Linked DNA regions of Homo sapiens: regions 1, 2 and 4 are each linked to region 3. Evidence: fine-mapped expression QTL. A gene starts in region 3. Each other region holds a variant in brackets. All regions are shown on one strand. Distances are from middle to middle. Region 1 overlaps POLE (DNA polymerase epsilon, catalytic subunit). Region 2 has its middle 18 kb from the start of MUC8. Region 3 holds the start of POLE (DNA polymerase epsilon, catalytic subunit). Region 4 overlaps POLE (DNA polymerase epsilon, catalytic subunit).

Region 1 (5,131 bases), 27 kb before region 3:
ACTGCTCGAATATCAAAGTCTTGAAGGGAAGAGCTCTTGAGCCATTTCCGGAGAAAGTGCTTCCTCACCGTGGGCTCTGCTTGGAAAATGGCAAGTGGGATGGCCCTGGGTAAGGAAGACAGGCACACAGCTCAGTAACAGTGAAAATCACCCAAAATCTGATCCTAACTCTTATCAAATGAACATGGAAATAAGGACGTGTAACAGCTGTTCACAAACATCAATGTATACATCTGCGTGCATATGTATGCACAAACATGCCTACAGGTTCCTCGGGGAGTAACACGTGCGTATGTGTAAACACGTGCGTGTGTGCACGTAAACATGTCTACATGTTCCTCACAGCGTAACCATGGGCATGCATATACATAAACACATGCGTGTGCGTAGACATGTCTGCGTTTCTCATTGAGTAACCACGTGCATGCGTACAGGCAAACACGTGCATGTTCGTAACTATGTCTACATGTTTCTCACGGCATAACCATGTGCATGCACATACATAAACGCATGCGTGCGTAAACATGTCTACGTTTCTGAGTAACCACGCGCATGCGTATAGGCAAAGACATGCGTGTGTGCGTAAACATGTCTGCGTTTCTGAGTAACCACGTGCATGCATACAGGCAAACGTGCACGTTCATAACCATGTCTACATGTTCCTTGCTGAGTAACACACAGAAGACTCAGGCTGCTTTCTAGAAAAAACGAGCCTGTTTTCATGTCACTAGCAAAGCAACTGGCAACCGTCAGTGCTTCCCTTTCACTGGAGGAAACATCTGTGGTGAATACTGCAAACATAAGGAGACCTAAAGAAGACACGCACACTATGATCCACTCGGCTCCATCAAGCTTCAACACTTGGCCACTCTGACTTCCTTTGTGAGACGATTAGAGTGAAGCCCTGTGTGACCCCAACCTATTCCCTCCTCACACAGAAGTAAAGACAACCCTTATTCTGGTGTTCATCAACCCCATGCAGGCATTTGTACTGGTCCTATTTGTATATAACCACCAAAAAAAAAAAAAAAAAAAAAAAAAAAGAGCAGTTTCCATGTTTTTAAGTTTTACATACACGGAGGCATAAGGGTCTTCCTTCAACCTGATTTTTGCTTTTTTCTCCAAAGTGGTTTCAAACTGTCAGTGTTGTAACCTGTAGCTGCAATTCAACCCTTTGAACTCTGGTATAGTGTATCTCATTCCCTACAAAATGGCAATTATCCATTTCTGGTTGATGGACACTTATGCCATCCCCAAACTTGGTGTTAAACACAGCCCAAATCTGTAAGGAACCCCTTACCTCTCCGTGACAGGGCAGCCCTCACCTCTCTGTGATGAGGGGAGCCCTCACCTCTCCGTGACGGAGGGAGCCCTCACCTGTCCGTGATGGGAGGAGCCCTCACCTCTCCGTGATGGGGGGAGCCCTCACCTCTCCGTGACAGGGGAGCCCTCGGGCTTGCGGGAGATGATGTAGCGGCAACTCAGCCCTGCATCCTTGACCATCTGGTCTCCCAGGAACTCGGCCAGGCGCTTTGCTGTGCTGATGGACGTAGACTTCTGCTCCCCGTAATCTTCCAGCTTCCGAGACATGGAACGGTTCTCAGAGATGAGCTCGAATAGCTCAGAGTCAGGCATGTTGGCTGCCTAGAGAAAGACAATGGGTAAAACACTGCAGAAATCAAGGGGCAGAGTCTGAGCTCACCCTGGACTGTGCTCCTCTAGGCCATGCCCTTCTCTAGCCTGAGACGCAGAAGGCTGCAATTTCAAGAGCTCTCTAATATGCCTGTGTGGCAATACTTTAAAACATACACACACACACAAAACTTTAGCTTTTATATTTTTTTTGAGACAGAGTCTCATTCTGTCACCCAGGCTGGAGTGCAGTGGTGCAATCTCAACTCACTAAAACCTCCCCTCCTGGGTTCAAGAGATTCTCGTGCCTCAGCCTCCCAAGTAGCTGAGATTACAGGCACATGCCATCACATCCAGCTAATTTTTGTATTTTTAGTAGAGAAAGGGTTTTGCCATGTTGGCCAGGCTGGTTTCCAACTCCTGACCTCAAGTGGTCTGCCCGCCGAGGCCTCCCAAGTGCTGGGATTACAGGCGTGAGCCACCACGCCTGGCTTGGCTTTTATTTTATTAAACTGTGCACAAAATATCAAGAAGAATTTACTGAAGAGCACCAAGGCTGCAGAAAAGGATGTTGCTCGGCCTAAGACAGGAAGTTTTTCTCCTTGAAAGGAAGAGAAAGAAGGGGCAGGAAGAGCCAGAAGAGAGGAAAGAGAAACTCCGGC[C/T]GGCTGGAGAGTGGCCTGAGCAGTGGAGGCCTGAGCAGTTCCAGTGTGGCACCCACATCCAGCTGGAGCTGTGCTTTGCACACATGTTCCTGACCACAGGCCCCCCACATCCTGTAAGGAGTGCTGGGCTCATGAATATTCTGTGTGATACCCTGGTGCTCCCTTGCTCGTGTGTTTCACTCTATACAAGACAATATGCCAAGAAACAGAAGCCCACACAGCAAAGCAAGCCAGGAAAGCACTGCAGAGTGTTCCAGTATTCCTTCTACCCAAGACGCCTGTGCCTGGGAAACATATGCACCGAGATATCTCGTTCAATGCAACACCATTGATAACAATGGAAATGTGAAACCTATCTGGTAGTAAATAATCGTGGGCTAGTTACGTAAATTAAGGTATGTAAACTGTCAAAATGTTATGTAGCCTGAAAAATATAAAAAATACAAAGTAACATAGAAATAAACAAATATCCCAGGCTGGAGTGCAGTGGTGCAGTCACGGCTCACTGTGGCCTCTACTTCCTGGTCTCAAGTGATCCTCCCAAGTAGCTGGGACCACAGGCACGCATCACCATGCCAGGCTTATCACGCTATTTAGAAAAACGTTTCCCTCAGAGTTGTGTCCCTGGATGCAGAAGTTGAGGGGAACTCCAAGGGGGTAATTGTGCTCAGGAGGTCTTGGGATTTCATTAGGACTGGCCCTGTGTTCTTCGGTCACCTTGGTCTCCAGGAGCCCAGGAAGCACGGGGTCCCCTTCTTGCTTCATCCTTCATCCCTCAGAGCAGGTGAGGGTGGAGGGTAGGCCTTTACCTTGCTGTACAGCACGTCCAGCCAGTAGTCAGCCACCTTGGCTACAGAGCCATACACCTCTTCCAGCGTGCTGCCCTTGAGGAAGGCCTCAAACACCGAGGATTGGAAGATCTTAATCAGCTGCAGTTCCCCGCGGCGTTTGACCTCAAAGCCCTTGAGCTCAGCCAGAGAACCGTCTTCATTGAACACAGCATACCTGAAAAAAAAAAAAAAGGCAAGCACAGCAGTGGCAAGGAGCGCTGGGGAGCCACCAGCTGTGCCTCATCCTCTCTGCCCGCCTCTTCCCTTTCCAACCCTCCACCTGTCATCCACGAGGCAGCAAACGTCTCTCTCCCTTAGGCCACTGCTTCTCTAAAAGGAAAATGGCTGAAGGGCCTGCAGCCACAGAGCCAGAATACAGCAGGCGGGCAGACAGAGCTGGTGCAAACGGAATCAGTAAGATCACAAGAACCCAGGTCTGTTTCTATCCTGGCTCCTGATCCAACCTCCTTTCTGGGCTAAATTTAATCTATCTCAATCCATGTCCTTTCTAAAGCACAAAAGCTATGAGAGTCCCACCTCTTCTTCAATTTCTTGCCTTCTTCCTTGGAGGCTGGAAGAATCATGGCAAGGTAGGGCCCATCAACCTCAAAAAAGATGCTGTTCTCTGAGCGGGTGACGTAGGTGAGTGAGGACGGCTCAGCCAGCTCCTGGTACTGGTCATTGGTGAAGCCTTCCTGAGAAACAAGAGTGAAGAGGGGGCAGCTTCACTCATGATGGCCCAAACCTGGAAACCACCTGGTGTCCCTCCAGGAGTGGATGGATTGACAAACCGAGGCTTTTCCACATAACTAACACGACTTGGCAGCAGGAAGGAAGGAAGTTCTGATGCATGCAACCAAGTGGTGAAACTCAGGTGTATCTGTTAGGTCCAAGAAGCCAGACCCAAAATGCTACAGGCCGTATGCTTCCCTTTACATGACATTTTCGACAAAGCAAAATTATAGTACAAAAAACACATTGTGGGTTGCCAGGGTTTCGGGGTAGGGAGAGGATTTGCTGACAAAGGGGTTGCAGCTGTTTTGTGTTGCTTCGTGGTGCTGGACACACACACTATGCACTTGTCCAAACCCACAGGGCTGTACGCTACAGAGTGAACGTCACTGTGTGCAAATTACAAGCCATCCAGCCATGGTGCTGGGATCCCAAGAGGGGTGCAGACTGGGCCAAATGAGCCCAACAGCACTGTGGACATACAGCAGAACATGCCAACAGGGTGGGGAGGAAGGAGCTGCCCGTGAACTCTGCTGACTGGACAGGGTAAGGCTGAAAACAAAAGTAACTATCTACAAATGCTGTACAGTGGCTGGTGAAATTATTTCTCATGGGACACAAGTCTGTTAGCAATTCTAAAACTACTTTACATGGACTCTAGGATTGAACAAACACATATATTGAGAAATTCGAAACAGGTTTATCACTGAAGGAGAAAGAAGTCACTAATAAGAAAGGGGCAGACTCATGTGTTTAAATGCATCCATGCAGACAGACAGACACAGAAATAAACAGTTCTGTGTGCGTGCGTTACTAGAGACATACTTCCTGGCTGCCTCCACTATGAGAGACTGGAAGCTATGACACTCCCAGGAACAGTGAGCACAGCAAGCACCCCATCTCGGGTTTTTACATCATTCTTCTCGGAGAACTGGCTGACTCCAGGTTGGAGCAGGGAAAATACAAGATGAGGCTGGTGGACCTTACAGTACCAAGAAGTAGGAAAGTGCTCCAGAAACAAAGACCAGAAGAGGGCGTGTCCCAAGAACACGCCACAAACTAGGAGGCCCCAGTGGCCCAAGGGGAACACGTGGAGCAGGAAGCCACTCCGGTCCTATGAACAATAACCCTGGGATGTCCACTCTGATCCGCAAATCCACACTGATGTCAATAAGCAGACAAATAAACGAGAACAAATGGAAGAGAAGGATAGCAACGCTTCCCTACAGGATCCCAATTGATACAGTAGAAGGAATGAAGGAAACAGACAATCGC
Region 2 (5,144 bases), 230 kb before region 3:
AGGGTTGGAGTAGATGTGATGGGTGTTGGGGGTGAGGGGGCGGGGATGTTAGGATTAGGGTTGGGGTAGATGTTATGGGTGTGGGGGTTGAGGGAACGGGGGTGTTAGGTTTAGGGTTGGAGTAGATGTGATGGGTGTTGGGGGTGAGGGGGCAGTGGTGTCAGGTTTAGGGTTAGTGCTGGGATTAGGGTTGGGGTAGATGTGATGAGTGTTGGGGTGTGGTCGCAGGAGGATTTGGCTTTTATTCTGGGGGAGGTGCTGCACTGGGCTGCACAGGGTACCAGCACCGGCCTCCTCTGACCAGATGCTATTTAGACCCCTCCCCCAACCCCTGTGTCCTTGGAGCCCCTCCCTCTGCCCAGCGTCCCTCCCTGAGTTTGCTCTTCTCTGTGGTAAGAGTGAGGGCTGCCTTTGGCTTCCAGGCAGGCAGCTTGGAGGGTGGGCAGGGTGAGGAAGTGGGTTCTGCATCTCCCGGGGAGTCTGAGGCCAGAGGCAGCTCTGAGCAGCCCGGCCGTGCAGGGGGCAGCTGGGGGAGGCTGCGGCCACCCCAGGGCTCTCCTCCATGCTAAGCCAGCAACTGGAAGGCCAGGGGTAGCCGGTTGCAGATGGGGTGGGAGCCAGGGTGACCAGCCACCCGTGTTCCCCAAGACGAAGTGGGCCGTGGGGGTCCCAGGTAAACATGGGGGAATCTGTCACCCTCTGAGAGCAGAGTCCAGTGGGGACGATGCAGGTCTGGGCACGACCTCTGGGAGGGGCAGCAGGTCAGGGGGACCCCTGGTTTCCAAGGAGCAGACACTGCCAGGGGAGAGGAAGCTGTTGACCCTGGTCAGAGGCCCAGGCTGAGGAGAGTGGGGTCAGGGCCACCAGGAACAGCCGGGGGCAGTAGCTCCAACCTCACAGCAGCACCTGGACAGACACCGACTGGGGACCACAGAAAGGTCTAGGATCCATGAGTTATGCCTGCCAACAGCAGACCCTGTGTATGTGTGCATGTGAACGTGTGTGAACATGTATGTGGATGTGTGTGCGTGTGGACATATGTGTGTGCATGTGGATGTGTGTGCGTGTGTTGTGTCTGCATGTGTGTGTGAACTTGTGTGTGTGTGCATGTGTGTGCATGTGAACGTGTGTGTGAACATGGATGTGTGCATGTGGGCGTGTGTATGCAAGTGGATGCGTGTGCATGTGGATGTGTGTGTGCATGTGTGTGCGTATGTGTGTGGACGTGTGTGATGCGTGTGGATATGTATGCATGTGCATTGCGTCAGTGCATTTGGACGTGTGTGTGAACTTGTGTGTGTGTGCGTGTGTGTGCATGTGAACGTGTGTGTGTGAACATGGATGTGTGCATGTGGACGTGTGCGTGTGGTGTGTCTGCATGTGTGTGTGGACTTGTGTGTGTGTGCGTCTGTGCATGTGAACGTGTGTGTGCATGTGAACATGGATGTGTGCATGTGGGCATGTGTATGCAAGTGGATGCATGTGCATGTGGATGTGTGTGTGCATGTGTGTGCGTATGTGTGTGTGGACGTGTGTGATGCATGTGGATATGTATGCATGTGCATTGCAGCAGTGCATTTGGACGTGTGTGTGTGGATGTGTGTGCGCGTGTGTGCATGTGAACGTGTGTGTGAACATGGATGTGTGCATGTGGACGTGTGCGTGTGGTGTCTGCATGTGTGTGTGGACGTGTGTGATGCGTGTGGATATGTATGCATGTGCATTGCATCAGTGCATTTGGACGTGTGTGTGTGGACGTGTGTGATGCGTGTGGATATGTATGCATGTGCATTGCCGCAGTGCATTTGGACGTGTGTGTGTGGATGTGTGTGCGCTTGTGTGCCTGTGGGCGCGTGTGTGTGAACACGGGTGTGAGTGGGTGTGCACGAATCTGTGTGTGTGTGTATGAACATGGAGCTCAGTGCGGGGTCTGCTTCCCCTCCAGTCAGAGCTGCCCTGGCATCTGGCTTTGACCTTAGGATGGGGCATGACCTCGGGAGGCCGTCCACTCTCCCTTCGTGCCGTGGAAGCCCTGGGGACTCAGGGCTGCGTGAGAGGAACCGTGCGGCAGCCGGCAACAGCTCCCAATGTGTGAGTGAGGCCAGGTGAGACCTCCGCCCAGCTGAGCAGCTGATGACCGACACAGAGGTGACCCGGGGAGCTCAGCAGAGGGGCCTAGACAGCAACTCCCTGCACCTGAGGCTCACAGACCCTCGGCAAGCACAGGTGTTCACAGTCTCACAGCAGAAGTGAGGTTCAGACGCTGGACCCCAGCGCACTCATCTGCCAGAGAAGAGGTCAGGGCCCCACAGGGCGAGGGGTCCATGGGGGCGAGAGGCCTGGTGTGGCTGAGGGTCCTGTGGAGCAGAGTGAGGAGACAGCTCCTGCCCTCACCCCAGGCTGAGCAGGACCACCTGGCCGGGGGGTGTGGAGCTCCTGGTGCTGGGTGCTGTCCCCAGGACTTGATGAGGCTGAGTCGTGCCCCAGACCAGTCTCATCCCGGCCCCAGCACCCAAGAAGGTGCCTCTGCGTGGAGAAGGGAGCTCGTGCTGGATGGAGGTCAGACGTGGCCGCCGTGCTAATCCCCAGAGCCTGCGCCTGTGTCGGGTTACCGGGCGGGGGAGTTAAGGCTGCAGATGGAAAAACTGCTAATCAGCTGACCTTAAAACACAATTACCCGGATTATCCGTGGGCCCAGTGCAATCACAAGGGTCCTCGAATGGGGAGGAGGAGGCAGGAGACGAGGCCGGGAGACGCTGCAGGGAGTCTCTGCGGCCGCCGAGGCTCTGAAGACGGAGGGAGGGCCTGGCCCGGACGGGCCACTCCTGGGGCTGACGAGGCAGGCGGCGGGTCCTCCCCAGGCCCCAGCAGAACCGGCCTTGCT[C/T]GCCCCACACTGGGCTTCCAACCTCCAGAGCTGCGAGATGATAAATCTGTGCGGCGTTGCGGTCACTTGCTCCGGCAGCCACAGGAAGCTCTCACATGGTGAGGCGTCGGGAGAGAGGGCTCCGTTGGCTTCCACGCCCCCCAGTCCTTGGGCTCGAACGGGCGGGGGAGTGGGTGGGTGGGTGGGTGGACGGGCGGGCAGGTGGGTGGATGGGCGGGTGAGTGGCTGGGTGGGCGGGCGGGCAGGTGAGTGGATGGCTGGGTGGGTGGGTGGGTGCGGGAGTGGATGGGTGGGTGGGTGGACGGGCGAGTGAGTGGGTGGGTGGGTGAGTGGACGGGCGGGTGAGTGGCTGGGTGGATGAGTGGATTGGGTGGACAGGTGGGTGGATGGGCGGGTGAGTGGATTGGGTGGACAGGTGGGTGGATGGGCGGGTGAGCGGGTGGGTGGGTGAGTGGACAGGTGGGTGGACGGGCAGGTGAGTGGGTGGGTGGGTGGACGGGCGGGTGAGTGGGTGGGTGGATGAGTGGACGGGTGGGTAGGTAGACAGGTGGGTGGATGGGCAGGTGAGCGGATGGGTGGGTGAGTGGACGGGTGGGTAGGTGGACAGGTGGGTGGACAGGCAGGTGAGCGGGTGGGTGGGTGAGCGGGTGGGTGGGTGAGTGGACGGGTGGGTAGGTGGACGGGTGGGTGGACGGGCAGGTGAGCGGGTGGGTGGGTGAGTTGACGGGTGGGTAGGTGACCAGGTGGGTGGACGGGCGGGTGAGCGGGTGGGTGGGTGAGTGGGTGGGTGGGTGAATGGACGGGTGGGTAGGTGGACAGGTGGGTGGACGGGTGGGTGGGTGATGGGTGAGCGAGTGGGCGGGTGAGTGGATGGGCGGGTGATGTGGCTGGGCGGGCAGGTGGGTGGACAGATGGCTGTGAAGCTTCATATCTTAAGTAGAGAGAGATGCAGATACGTATTGAAATCTCAGCCTTATGAATACAGGTATATATCGAATCCGGTTTCCGCTCCTTCAAACATTCTGTGTGCTGTCAGTATTGATTGAGCATTTCCCACACACACGTAGCATTCCCTGTGTGTCTGGCACTCTTCTCCACACTTCTTTAACTCATCTGGTCTTTGCAGCATCCACGAGGGAGGTGCTGCTATCCTCCCCCTTTACAGGTGAGGAGACTGAGGCCGAGGGATGGAGTGATCTGTTGGGGTTAGTGGCTGAGTGCAAATATGAACGCTGCCAGCAGCACCTCAGCCCTGTGCTGGCCTCAGGCCCCGGCTGCACTCTGCTGGGTCCACCCCACCACAGTGCACCCTCCATGCCGTCCGCTCCCAGCTCATTGTCCAGGAGTGGTGGTGCCCGAAAGCTGAGCCTGGGACAGGCCCCTGGGACCTCAGGGGTTGGGGGGCAGGAAACTGAGCATCACACTTTTGGCTTTAACAGCAAGACACTGCCTCTGCGTCCCACCTGCCCGTGAGGTGGAGAATTCCCTACACAGGATATGGGTTCAGATGCTGGGTAGGCAAAGAATGGCCAATGGCCACCGCACCTGTCCTGTCCGGAGAGGGCAGGATGCCTCCCCTGTGATGGGTTTTATCAAATTTCTCTTGAAATTCCTTTTTTTTTTTTTTTTTTCTTTCAGAGACAGGGTCTTGCTCTGTCCCCCAGGCTGCAGTGCAGGTGCGATCTTAGCTCACTGCAGTCTGGAATTCCTGGGCTCAAGCCGTCCTCTGGCCTCAGCCTTCGGAGTAGCTAGGACCACAGGTGCCACCACCACGCCCAGCCCGATTTCTCCAGTTTTGTGTGGTCTAGTTCTATTCCGCACTGCTCAGCACACAAAGGCTTTTGTGTCTGCTGAACCTTTGGAAGGCACAGGACATTTTTGTCCCTTTATAAACTCAAAGCATGATCCTATCTATGTTTAAAAAGCAGACGCGGACAGCGGCGGACATGAGGAAAGGCCAGAGGCAGCAGCCAGCCCATCTCAGGCCCGTCACCGTGGAAGCAGCGGCCGGAGGAGCCACAGAAAGCAAAACTCCCAAAGCCGCCCACGTACTTCGGGTCTTAGCTTGGATCTCCTGGAGACAGGCCCTGCGAAGGAGCTGGGCTGGGAGCAGGTTTATCAGGGCGTGATCTTAGGAGGCAGATGTAGGAGGTGAGGAAGGCAGGGTGTGTAGAGTGCAGCTGACCCAACCGGCCCGGCCGACCCACAGGACGCCCTGGGCTGAGACGCTGTCAGCACTGCCCCAGGCTGAGACCACCTT
Region 3 (5,144 bases):
ACCGTCCCAGTACTCCACACAGGCTTTCATTCACAGAGCTACCATTGACTGGTTACTGTATCACACCGTCCCAGTACTACACACAGGCTCTCATTCACAGAGAGCTACCATTGACTGGTTACTGTATCACACTGTCCCAGTACTCCACACAGGCTCTCATTCACAGAGAGCTACCATTGACTGGTTACTGTATCACACCGTCCCAGTACTCCACATATGCTCTCATTCAGTTTTCATGACAACCCCTACGAGGGAGGCCACTGGTGTCCCCATTTCACACAAGAAGAAACGCAGGCAAACAGCACCCACTGCCTCCTGGGGCACACTCACCTCCCAGGACTGTTTTAAGGATGAGATGAGGTAACCCACATAAAGCATGTAAGGTAAAAGCCATCACTTGTACTTATCCCAGCAGCAGCCTTCCCCCTGCCTGGAGGCCATCACTGAGCTTGGGGCAGGGCAGTGGAGTGGAGCACGTGAGTGCAGTCCTGTGTCCTGAAGCAGGGCAGTCAGTAACCGTCTCTAAGCTCCAAGTTCCAACACACCATGTAGACCCTAAGGGTACCTGCCTCTCTAGGGCTTGCCTGATATGGACAGACAGCGATGAGCACAACAGCAGTTAGGGATCCTTACCACTTGGTTTCTCCTCTGGGAAGAATTTTGTTCAGCTAAGTGTCTGTAAAAAGCTTCACGTTCTCACACGTTTTTTCTATTTTTTTTTTTTTGAGACAGAGTTTCATTCTTTGTTGCCCAGCCTGGAGTGCAATGGCGCGATCTCGGTTCACCGCAACCTCCGCCTGCCGCGTTCAAGTGATTCTCCTGCCTCAGCCTCCTGCGTAGCTGGGATTACAGGCATGCGCCACCACGCCCCGCTAATTTTGTATTTTTTTAGTGGAGACGGGATTTCTCCATGTTGGTCAGGCTGGTCTCGAACTCCTGACCTCAGGTGATCCTCCTGCCTCGGCCTCCCAAAGTGCTGGGATTACAGGTGTGAGCCACCGCGCCGGGCCTCATCCGTTTTCTGCTTATGGCAGGCCAGTCCTCCGGTCATGTTTACCGTTTGCTCTGGCCACCAAGCAGCCGCGTCTTATCCTTGCTCTATTTTTTTTGAGACTGGGTCTGGCTCCGTCGCCCAGGCTGGAGTGCGGTGGCGCGATCCCGGCTCACAGCAGCCTTGACCTGCCGGGCTCAGGTGAACCTCCGGCTCGGATTCGGGAGTATTAATAGCTGGGACCTCGGGCGCGCACCACCAGCCTGTCTAATTTTTCTTGTTTTTACAAGAGAAGGGCCGGGCGCGGAGTCTCACGTCTGTAATCCCAGCACTTTGGAAGGCCGAGGCGGGCGGATCACCTGAGGTCAGGAGTTCGAGACCAGCCTGGCCAACATGGTGAAACCCGGTCTCTACTAAAAATACAAAAACTAGCCGGGCCTGGTGGCGGGCGCCTGTAATTCCAGCTACTCGGGAGGCTGAGGCAGCGGGATCGCTTGAACCCGGGAAGCAGAGGTTGCAGTGAGCCGAGATCGCGCCACTGCACTCCAGCCTGGGCGACAGAGCGGGACTCCCTGCCCAAAAAAATAAAACAGAGGAGACGAGGTCTCTCTCTGTAGCCCAGGCTGATCTAGAACAGGATCCTGGGCTCCAGCGATCCGCCCGCCTCGGCCTCCCCCAGCGCTAGGCCCCCAGGCAGGGTCCCCGGCCCCGCCCCTCCCCGCACCCTCCCCAGCCGCGCGTCCACCCCGCAGGGCCTGGCCCGGGTCCCGCCGCTCTCATCGCCCCCGCCGCGCGGCAGGTCCCAAACGCAGCTGCGCGGAAGGCGAGGCCCGAAAAACCTCAGAAAGAGCCGAGCAGGGAAAGGCCGCGCGGCCCGCCTCGTTTCCCCGCAAAGAAGCCGCGCCCGTAGCGCCTCCGCCCGCCCCGAGCCCCTCCGTCGGCGGTCGGGGCGCGCCGCCCTACCCCAGTCAGGCGCGGCGAGTGCGGGCGGCTGCGGGAACCGGGCCTCCCTCCCGCCTCGGCGGCGCCAGCCGAGGACGGCCCCATGGCACCCTCCGGAGGGCCGGCCCGAGAGCCTCAGGAGGGCGCCCCTCACCTGCTGGCCTCGCCATCCGCGCCTGGGTCCGCGCGCCGCCGCCCGCCGCTCCTCAGAGACATGGAGCCGTTGGCTACCACCTCTGCTTCAGGGGAGAAATTTGGCGCGCTCCCACCCAGACTCGCGAGAGCCGGAAATGCCGCCGTCCATCAAGAGGCGCGCTCCGCCCCTCCCCCGCCCCCCGAGGCGCTCCAATTGGCGCCGGCGCCCGGCGGGGGAGGTGGCCGGCAGGGACCGGGGAAAAGTGTGTGGTAGGCGCGCGCGGCGCACCGTGGGGTTGGGACCGGGCGGCGCTGCGGGCCGCGGTGGGGCCGGAAATGTCAGGCGGTCCCCACTCCGCTCTCGGCGCCTCGGGCTCCGCGCCCGGCCAGCCTGAGGTGGGGTCGGTGCCCCCGGCGGCACGGCGCTGGGGAGGCGATGGCGCCGGCCGCGTCCAGGCTGCGGGCCGAAGCCGGGCTCGGGGCGCTGCCGCGGCGGGCGCTCGCCCAGTACCTGCTCTTCCTGCGGCTCTACCCGGTGCTCACCAAGGCGGCCACCAGGTGAGCGGGGGCGCGGGAATCGGACGCCGCCCCGGCCCCAGGTCGGCCGCAGCGGCGCGGGGCCTGGACGGGAGCGCCGGGCCGGGACCAGGCTGGGGGCGCGCCCGGGTCAGAACCCCCGGAGCGGGCGCCCTCCGACCCGGCGCTGAACTTCCCGCGGCGACACCCGCGTCCGCAGTCAGCGATTGTGAGGCGCCTTGCGGATCCCGCCCTCCCAGCGCGTGGAGGGCCCGCCCAGACCCGGGGGTCGGCGCTGAGGTTCCACCCAAGGACCCAACAGGGGCCCCGCGCGCCCGGGGAAGCCACGGCAAGGGGAGCGGGTCCGCAGGCGCGGGTGAAGACAGGGCGAGGGGAGCGGGTCTGCGGGGCGCGGGTGAAGACAGGGCGAGGGGAGCGGGTCTGCGGGGCGCGGGTGAAGACAGGGCGAGGGGAGCGGGTCTTGGGGGCGCGGGTGAAGACAGGGCGAGGGGAGCGGGTCTGCGGGGCGCGGGTGAAGACAGGGCCAGGGGAGCGGGTCTGCGGGGCACGGGTGAAGACAGGGCCAGGGGAGCGGGTCCTCATGGAGCGTGTGGAGACAGGGCCAAGGGAGCGAGTCTGCGGGGCGCGGGTGAAGACAGCGCCAGGGGAGCGGGTCTTGGGGGCGCGGGTAAAGACAGGGCCAGGGGAGCGGGTCCTCATGGCGCGGGTGGAGACAGGGCCAAGGGAGCGGGTCTGCGGGGCGCGGGTGAAGACAGGGCCAAGGGAGCGGGTCTGCGGGGCGCGGGTGAAGACAGGGCGAGGGGAGCGGGTCTGCGGGGCACGGGTAAAGACAGGGCCAAGGGAGCGGGTCTGCGTGGTGCGGGTGAAGACAGGGCCAGGGGAGCGGGTCTGCGGGGCACGGGTGAAGACAGGGCGAGGGGAGCGGGTCTTGGGGGCGCGGGTGAAGACAGGGCCAGGGGAGCGGGTCTGCGGGGCACGGGTGAAGACAGGGCGAGGGGAGCGGGTCTTGGGGGCGCGGGTGAAGACAGGGCCAGGGGAGCGGGTCTGCGGGGCACGGGTGAAGACAGGGCGAGGGGAGCGGGTCTTGGGGGCGCGGGTGAAGACAGGGCCAGGGGAGCGGGTCTGCGGGGCACGGGTGAAGACAGGGCCAGGGGAGCGGGTCCTCATGGAGCGTGTGGAGACAGGGCCAAGGGAGCGAGTCTGCGGGGCGCGGGTGAAGACAGCGCCAGGGGAGCGGGTCTTGGGGGCGCGGGTAAAGACAGGGCCAGGGGAGCGGGTCCTCATGGCGCGGGTGGAGACAGGGCCAAGGGAGCGGGTCTGCGGGGCGCGGGTGAAGACAGGGCCAAGGGAGCGGGTCTGCGGGGCGCGGGTGAAGACAGGGCGAGGGGAGCGGGTCTGCGGGGCACGGGTAAAGACAGGGCCAAGGGAGCGGGTCTGCGTGGTGCGGGTGAAGACAGGGCCAGGGGAGCGGGTCCACATGGAGCGTGTGGAGACAGGGCCAAGGGAGCGAGTCTGCGGGGCGCGGGTCCGCACGGCGCGGGTGGAGACACGGCCAGGGAAGGTGTTTTGAGAAGGTGACATTGAACAGGCTGTGTAAAGAAGTGGAGCAGAGGCTCTCCTGGCACAGGGAACAGCAGGGCAAAGGTCTCTGTTAGGTTTTGAAGGGAAGGCCGGCGTTAAAGAAAGGCGGAGAGAGGTGCAGCTTGGACTCAGTCCCGAGGGAGGGAAGATCTGTGTGTGGAGAAAGTGAACCCTGAGCAAGAGGCAGGAGATGTGAAGGGAATCGCCAGGGATCTGATCGAGAAGGTGTCTAGGTCCGTGCTAGGAATTTTGGATTTTATAGTCCAGAGAGCTTCTCAGAAGGCAAATACAAACCAAGGCCTGGAGGGAGCCACTGGGCCTGTTCCACCTTTTTATGGAAATTTTTATTGTGATAATTGTAGATTCACAAACAGTTACAAGACTAACATGGAGAGATTCCTTGCACACCTTCCCAGTGTCCCCCATTGGTTACATTCTGTGAAACGTAGTGCAGTATCGACCAGGGCATTGCGTGGACACAGTCCACAGATCCTATTCGGATTTCTCCATTTTTCTTGTAGCTGTATCTGTTCTGTACAGTTTTATCACATCTGTACATTCTTGTGTTCACTACCACAGTCAAAATGCAGAACAGCGTCATGATAGGGCTGTCCTGTTGCCCGTTCATAACCACACAGCTTCCCAACTCCCAAACTGCCAAATTATAGTATAACATCACAGCCAGGATGTTGACATAGATACTGGAAAGCCACTTGTCCTTACCTGTGTGTTTAAGTCCACCGTCTCCACCTTTTGATACAAGAACTATACATTGCAGCCGCTTTAACAAGAATTCCTACCCCCCGCCCATCTGCTGCATGGCCTCAGAACGGCCCTGCTAATTCACCTATGGGAAAGGGACACCCTCCTGCTGGTCACTGCTGTTTTCTGATGACCTCCCTCTCCACAGTGGCATTTTGTCAGCACTTGGGAACTTCCTGGCCCAGATGATTGAGAA
Region 4 (5,144 bases), 60 kb before region 3:
CTCGCTGTGGATGTTCCACCCCAGATGCCCAGTCCTGAGGCCTCCTCCAGGCCCTGCTCACTCCCTCCATCCTGCAGGCCTGAACGCCGTGCACCACCACACGGCAGCTTGGCGCGTCCCCCAGCCTCTGCTCAGATGCCCCTCGGCAAGACCTTCCTGTGGCCGAGCTGTGCAACTCCCTCTTCCTCCTTTCCTTCTCTTCACACTTGGGAGTGTCTGCCTCCTTCCGCTAGAACGAAGCACCCACAAGGCCAGCTCTTGACCCAAGGCAGGTGCTCAACCAGTGTGGACAGAACAGTCCATCAGGCTCAGGGCATGGACTGGTCTGCAGGGCAGGCCCCTTGGAAGACACCAGGGCGTGCCTCAGGACCTGCACACACCCCGGCTCCCGGGAGTGCACAGAAACCCCCCTGTGGACTCCAGGGCACACGGGCAGGCGGCATGCACGACTCACCAGGTCCTGCAGGGTGAAGGCCATCAGCTTCTTCTGTAGAACTTCCACCAGCGTCATCTCGATGGCAGAGGAGTCGTAGGGCGCCTGACAGTTGGAGCAGAGCCACTGAGGCAGGACCGCCCCATCCTAGGCAGAGCAAGAGTGCGAGAGGTCACCAGCCCAGCCTCCAGACCACAGTGCCATGGGCAGGATCTCAGGAGAGGAAGGGGCTGTGAGAAGCGCCTGGTGACGGGCGAGTCTCCTGAGTGCAGCTGCACGCACTCTGGCCTCCCACCTGCACTTGAGCCCTTCCTAGGACAACATTCCGAACATGGTGTGGGGAGGCCTGGGAAGGGGCCTGTTGCCAATCCATGTGAGTCAGAGGGGCAGCAGGTGTGACCCACAGAGCTGGAGCTGCAGAAGCCCTCAAGACACCGCAGTGCCCTCGGATGTTCTGCTCCACAGTGAAGGGCCCGCTGGAGCTCAGCCGCACCTCTGAGAAGGAAGAGTCTTTACACAGGTCCAGGTCGCGGCAGAAGTTACAGCTGCGGCAGATGACCTCAGGAAGCACGTAGGAGCGGCAGGGGTCTCGGAACTGGGCCTCCTCGGAGAACTCGCCGACATCCACCAGGCGAAGCAGGTCTCGGTTCAGCTTATTCACCTGGTTTGTGATGTTGGTGTCCAGGGACAGCACCTGCAGAGACCACAGCCCACATCGGGAAGGAGCTCCCGGGGCCTCCCTGCTGCTCTGTCTGGACCAGAACCCTCTGGACCTTAGGCTACAGTTTCCTGGTGTCCTTTCCTCCCTTCCTTAGTCCCTTTAGACGCCTCAGCTGACTTCTCTACATTAGCAGTTTTCCATCGGTGAGGACAGGCTTCCCTGGGGAATTTACTAAACATTTAAGGAAGAAATGCTGCTGATTCTACACAGTATCTTTCAAAACACTGAAGAGAGAGAGCACTCAACCCATTCTATGAGGCCAGCATCCCCTGATACTAGAACCAAAGACCGTACTAAGAAACTACAGACCAATAACAGCCTGAGCACAGACACAAAAATGCGCAACGAGATATTAGCAAATTGAATGCAAGATCGAAAAAAAGAATACATAATCCAGAAAGAGACTCACATAGATAAGGTTACTAAGTTATGGAAAAAGGTACAAAGATGATTCGATAGAAAAAGAATAGTCTTTTCAACAAATGGTTCTTGAATACAAGCGTATCTTGGAGATATGGCAAGTTCGGTTTCAAACCACCTCAATGGACTAACATCACAATAAAGCAAATCACACAAATTATTTGGTTTCTCAGTGCATATAAAAGTTACATGATTTTTGGCTCACGCTTGTTTTCTCAGTACATATAAAAGTTACGTGATTTGTGGTGGCTCACGCCTGTAATCCCAGCACTTTGGTAGGCCAAGGCAGGTGGATGGCCTGAGGTCAGGAGTTCAAGACCATCCTGGCCAACACAGTGAAACCCCATTTCTATTAAAAATACAAAAATTGGCTGGGCATGGTGGCGGGTGCACCTGTGATCCCAGCTACCTGGGAGGCTGAAGCAGGGAATCGCTTGAACCCAGGAGGTGGAGGTTGCAGTTAGCCAAGATTGCACCACTGCACTCCAGCCTGAGTGACAGAGTGAGACTCCATCTCAAAAAAAAAAAAAGCTATGTGATTTTTTTTATTTTGGGACAGGATTTCACTCTGTCACCCAGAATGGACTGCAGTGGCACAATCATGGCTCACTGCAGCATTGACCTCTTGGGGCTCAATTGATCCTTCTACCTCAGCCTTCCCAGTAGCTGGGACGACAGGCATGCGCCACCATGCCCAGGTAATGTTTGTAATCGTTGTAAAGATGGGTTTTGCCATGTTGCCCAGGCTGGTCTTGAACTGCTGGGCTCAAACAGTCAACCCACCCTGACCTCCCAAAGTGCTGGGATTACAGGTGTGAGTCACTCTACCCAGACAAAACTTAGGTTTACCCTATACTGTAGTCTATTAAGTGCATAACAGCATTATGTCTAAAAAACAATGTATGTACCTTAATTTTAAAATGTTTTATTGCTCAGAAATATTAACGATCATCTGAGCCTTCAGTGAGTCGCAATCGTTTTGCTGGTGGAGGGTCTTGCCTCAATGTAAACGGCTGCTGACTGATCAGGGTGGTATTGCTGAGAGTTGGGGTGGCTGTGGC[A/T]ATTTCTTAAAACAAGACAACAATGAAGTTTGCTGCATCAACTGACTCTTCCTTCCATGAAAGACTCTGTAGCATGTGATGCTGTTTGATAACATTTCACCCACAGTAGAACTTCTTTCAAAATTGGAGTCGGTCCTCTCAAATTCTGCTGCTGCTTTGGCAACTAAGTTTATGGAATATTCTCAATCCTTTGTCATTTCCACAATGTTCACTTTCATCTCAAGAAACTACTTTTTGGCCAGGTGCGGTGGCTCACGCCTGTAATCCCAGCACTTTGGGAGGCCGAGGTGGGCAGATCACAAGGTCAGGAGATCGAGACCATCCTGGCTAACATGGTGAAACCCTGTCTCTACTAAAAATACGAAAATTAGCCAGGTGTGGTGGCGCTTGCCTGTAGTCCCAGCTACTCGGGAGGCTGAGGCAGGAGAATGGCGTGAACCTGGGAGGGAGCTTGCAGTGAGCCAAGATCGCGCCACTGCACTCCAGCCTGGGCGAGAGTGCGAGACTCCATCTTAAAAAAAAAACTACTTTTTTGGGCTGGGCGTGGTGGCTTGTGCCTGTAATCCCAGCACTTTGGGAGGCCAAGGCGGGTGGATCACCTGAGGTCAGGAGTTTGAGACCAGCCTGACCAATATGGTGAAACTCTGTCTCTATTAAAAATACAAAAATTAGCTGAGCATTGTGGCGGGCACCTGTAATCCCAGCTACTTGGGAGGCTGATGTAGGAAAATCACTTGAACCCAGGAGGCGGAGGTTGCAGCGAGCCAAGACCGCACCACTGTATTCCAGCCTGGGCGACAGAGCAAGGAGGCTCCATCTCAAAACAAAACAAAACAAAACAAAACAAAACAAAACAAAACAAAAAACTACTTTACTGCTCATCCATGAAAAGCCACTCTTTATCTGTTAAATTTTGTCCTGAGATTGCAGCAACTTGGTCACATCTTCAGGCTCCACTTCTAATTCTAGTTCCCTTGCTGTTTCCACCACATCTGCAGTCACGCCTCCCACAATAGTCTTGAATCCCTCAAAGTCATCCATGAGGGTCAGAATCAACTTCTTCCACACTCCTGTTAATGTTGATATTTTGACCCCTTCTCCCATGAGTCACAAATGTTCTTAATGGCATCCAGAATGGTGAATCCTTTCTAGAAGGTTTTCAATTTACTGTGCCCAGTTCCATCAGGGGAATCACTATCTATGGCAGCTATAGCCTCATGAAATATATTTTTAAATAATAAACGTTGAAAGTCGAAATTGCTCCTTGATCCATGGGCTGCAGAAGGGATGCTGTGTCCGCAGGCATGAAAGCAACATTCATCTCCTTGTACGTCTCCATCAGAGCTCTTGGGTGACCAGGTCCACTGTCAATGAGCAGTACTATTTTGGAAGGAATCTTTTTCTGAGCTGCAGGTAGTGGCCTTAAAAGACTGAATGAGCAGTGGCTTCGACTTAAAGTCACCAGCTGCATCTGCCGCTAACAAGAGTCAGCCTTTCCTCTGAAGCCAGGCTCTGAGGCCTCCTCTCTAGCTATGAAAGTCCTAGATGGCATCTTCTTCCAAAAGAAGGCTGTTTTGTCTACACGGAAAATATGTTGTCAGTGTAGCCACCTTCGCCAATGATCCCAGACAGATCTTCTGGAGAACTCGCTGCAGCCTCTCCACCCGCACCTGTTGCCTCATTTGCCCTTTTATGTTACTGGGACGGCTTCTCTCCCTAAACCCCATGAACCAACCTCCGCCAGCTTCAAGCTTTCCTTCTACAGCCTCCTCAGCTCTCAGCCTTCATGGAACTGAACAGAGTGAGAGCCTTGCTCTGGATTAGGCTCTGGCTTGAGGGGATGTTATATCTGGTTTGATCTATCCAGACTCAACTTTCTCCATATCAGCAACAGGATGCTTCACTTCTTTATCTTTCATGTGTTCACTGGAGGAGCACTTGTAATTTCCTTCAAGAACCTTTCCTTTGCAGTTGACTTGGCTAACTGGTGTGAGAGGCCTAGCTTTCAGCCTGTCTCGACTTTCAACATGCCTTCCTAAGTTTAGCCATTTCTAGCTCTTTATGTAAAGTGAGAGACGTGTGACTCTTCCTTTCACTTGAACACGTAGAGGCCATTGCAGGGCTATTAACTTACCTAATTTCTATAGTGTTGTGTCACCGGGACTGGGGAGGCCCAAGGAGAAAGGGCGAGATGGCAGAATGGCCCGTGAGTGGAGCAATCAGGACACACACAACATTGATGAAGCTCATTGTCTTCTATGCGCACGGTTCATGGCGCCCCAAAACAATTGCCATAGAAGCATCAAAGGTTATCACGGCTGATATAATAATAGTGGAAAAGTCTGAAATATCCTGAGAGTTACCAACATGTGACACAGACACAGTGAGCACATGCTGTTGGAAAGATGAGACTTGCTCAAGACAAGATTCCCACAAACCTTCCATTTATAAAAATACAGGTAACCGCTTCGAAGCACAATAAGACAGGATATGCCTGCAATCAGATATC

The links. PIP is the estimated chance that this variant, and not a neighbour inherited with it, causes the effect.
Region 1: its variant is the best candidate, but not a certain one, in a credible set for the expression of POLE in whole blood (TOPMed, PIP 0.89).
Region 2: its variant is the best candidate, but not a certain one, in a credible set for the expression of POLE in cerebellar hemisphere (GTEx, PIP 0.51).
Region 4: its variant is the best candidate, but not a certain one, in a credible set for the expression of POLE in whole blood (INTERVAL, PIP 0.62).

The regions. Positions count from the first base shown.
Region 1 is chr12:132,657,866-132,662,996 of GRCh38, forward strand. POLE (DNA polymerase epsilon, catalytic subunit) reads right to left here. Exons shown (of 49, transcript NM_006231.4): 24 at 3,662-3,819; 25 at 3,104-3,299; 26 at 1,430-1,644; 27 at 3-105. Among named protein-coding and RNA genes, the nearest start is that of POLE, 27 kb to the right of the region's middle. The variant C/T (reference allele first, on the strand shown) is at 2,295.
Region 2 is chr12:132,454,422-132,459,565 of GRCh38, forward strand. No RefSeq gene overlaps it. Among named protein-coding and RNA genes, the nearest start is that of MUC8, 18 kb to the right of the region's middle. The variant C/T (reference allele first, on the strand shown) is at 2,885.
Region 3 is chr12:132,685,167-132,690,310 of GRCh38, forward strand. POLE (DNA polymerase epsilon, catalytic subunit) reads right to left here and starts at 2,176. Exons shown (of 49, transcript NM_006231.4): 1 at 2,088-2,176. The coding sequence starts at 2,149. PXMP2 (peroxisomal membrane protein 2) reads left to right here and starts at 2,421. Exons shown (of 5, transcript NM_018663.3): 1 at 2,421-2,626; 2 at 5,097-5,144. The coding sequence starts at 2,505. RefSeq lists a silencer at 1,627-2,936.
Region 4 is chr12:132,625,191-132,630,334 of GRCh38, forward strand. POLE (DNA polymerase epsilon, catalytic subunit) reads right to left here. Exons shown (of 49, transcript NM_006231.4): 46 at 927-1,127; 47 at 455-580. Among named protein-coding and RNA genes, the nearest start is that of P2RX2, 9.0 kb to the left of the region's middle. The variant A/T (reference allele first, on the strand shown) is at 2,636.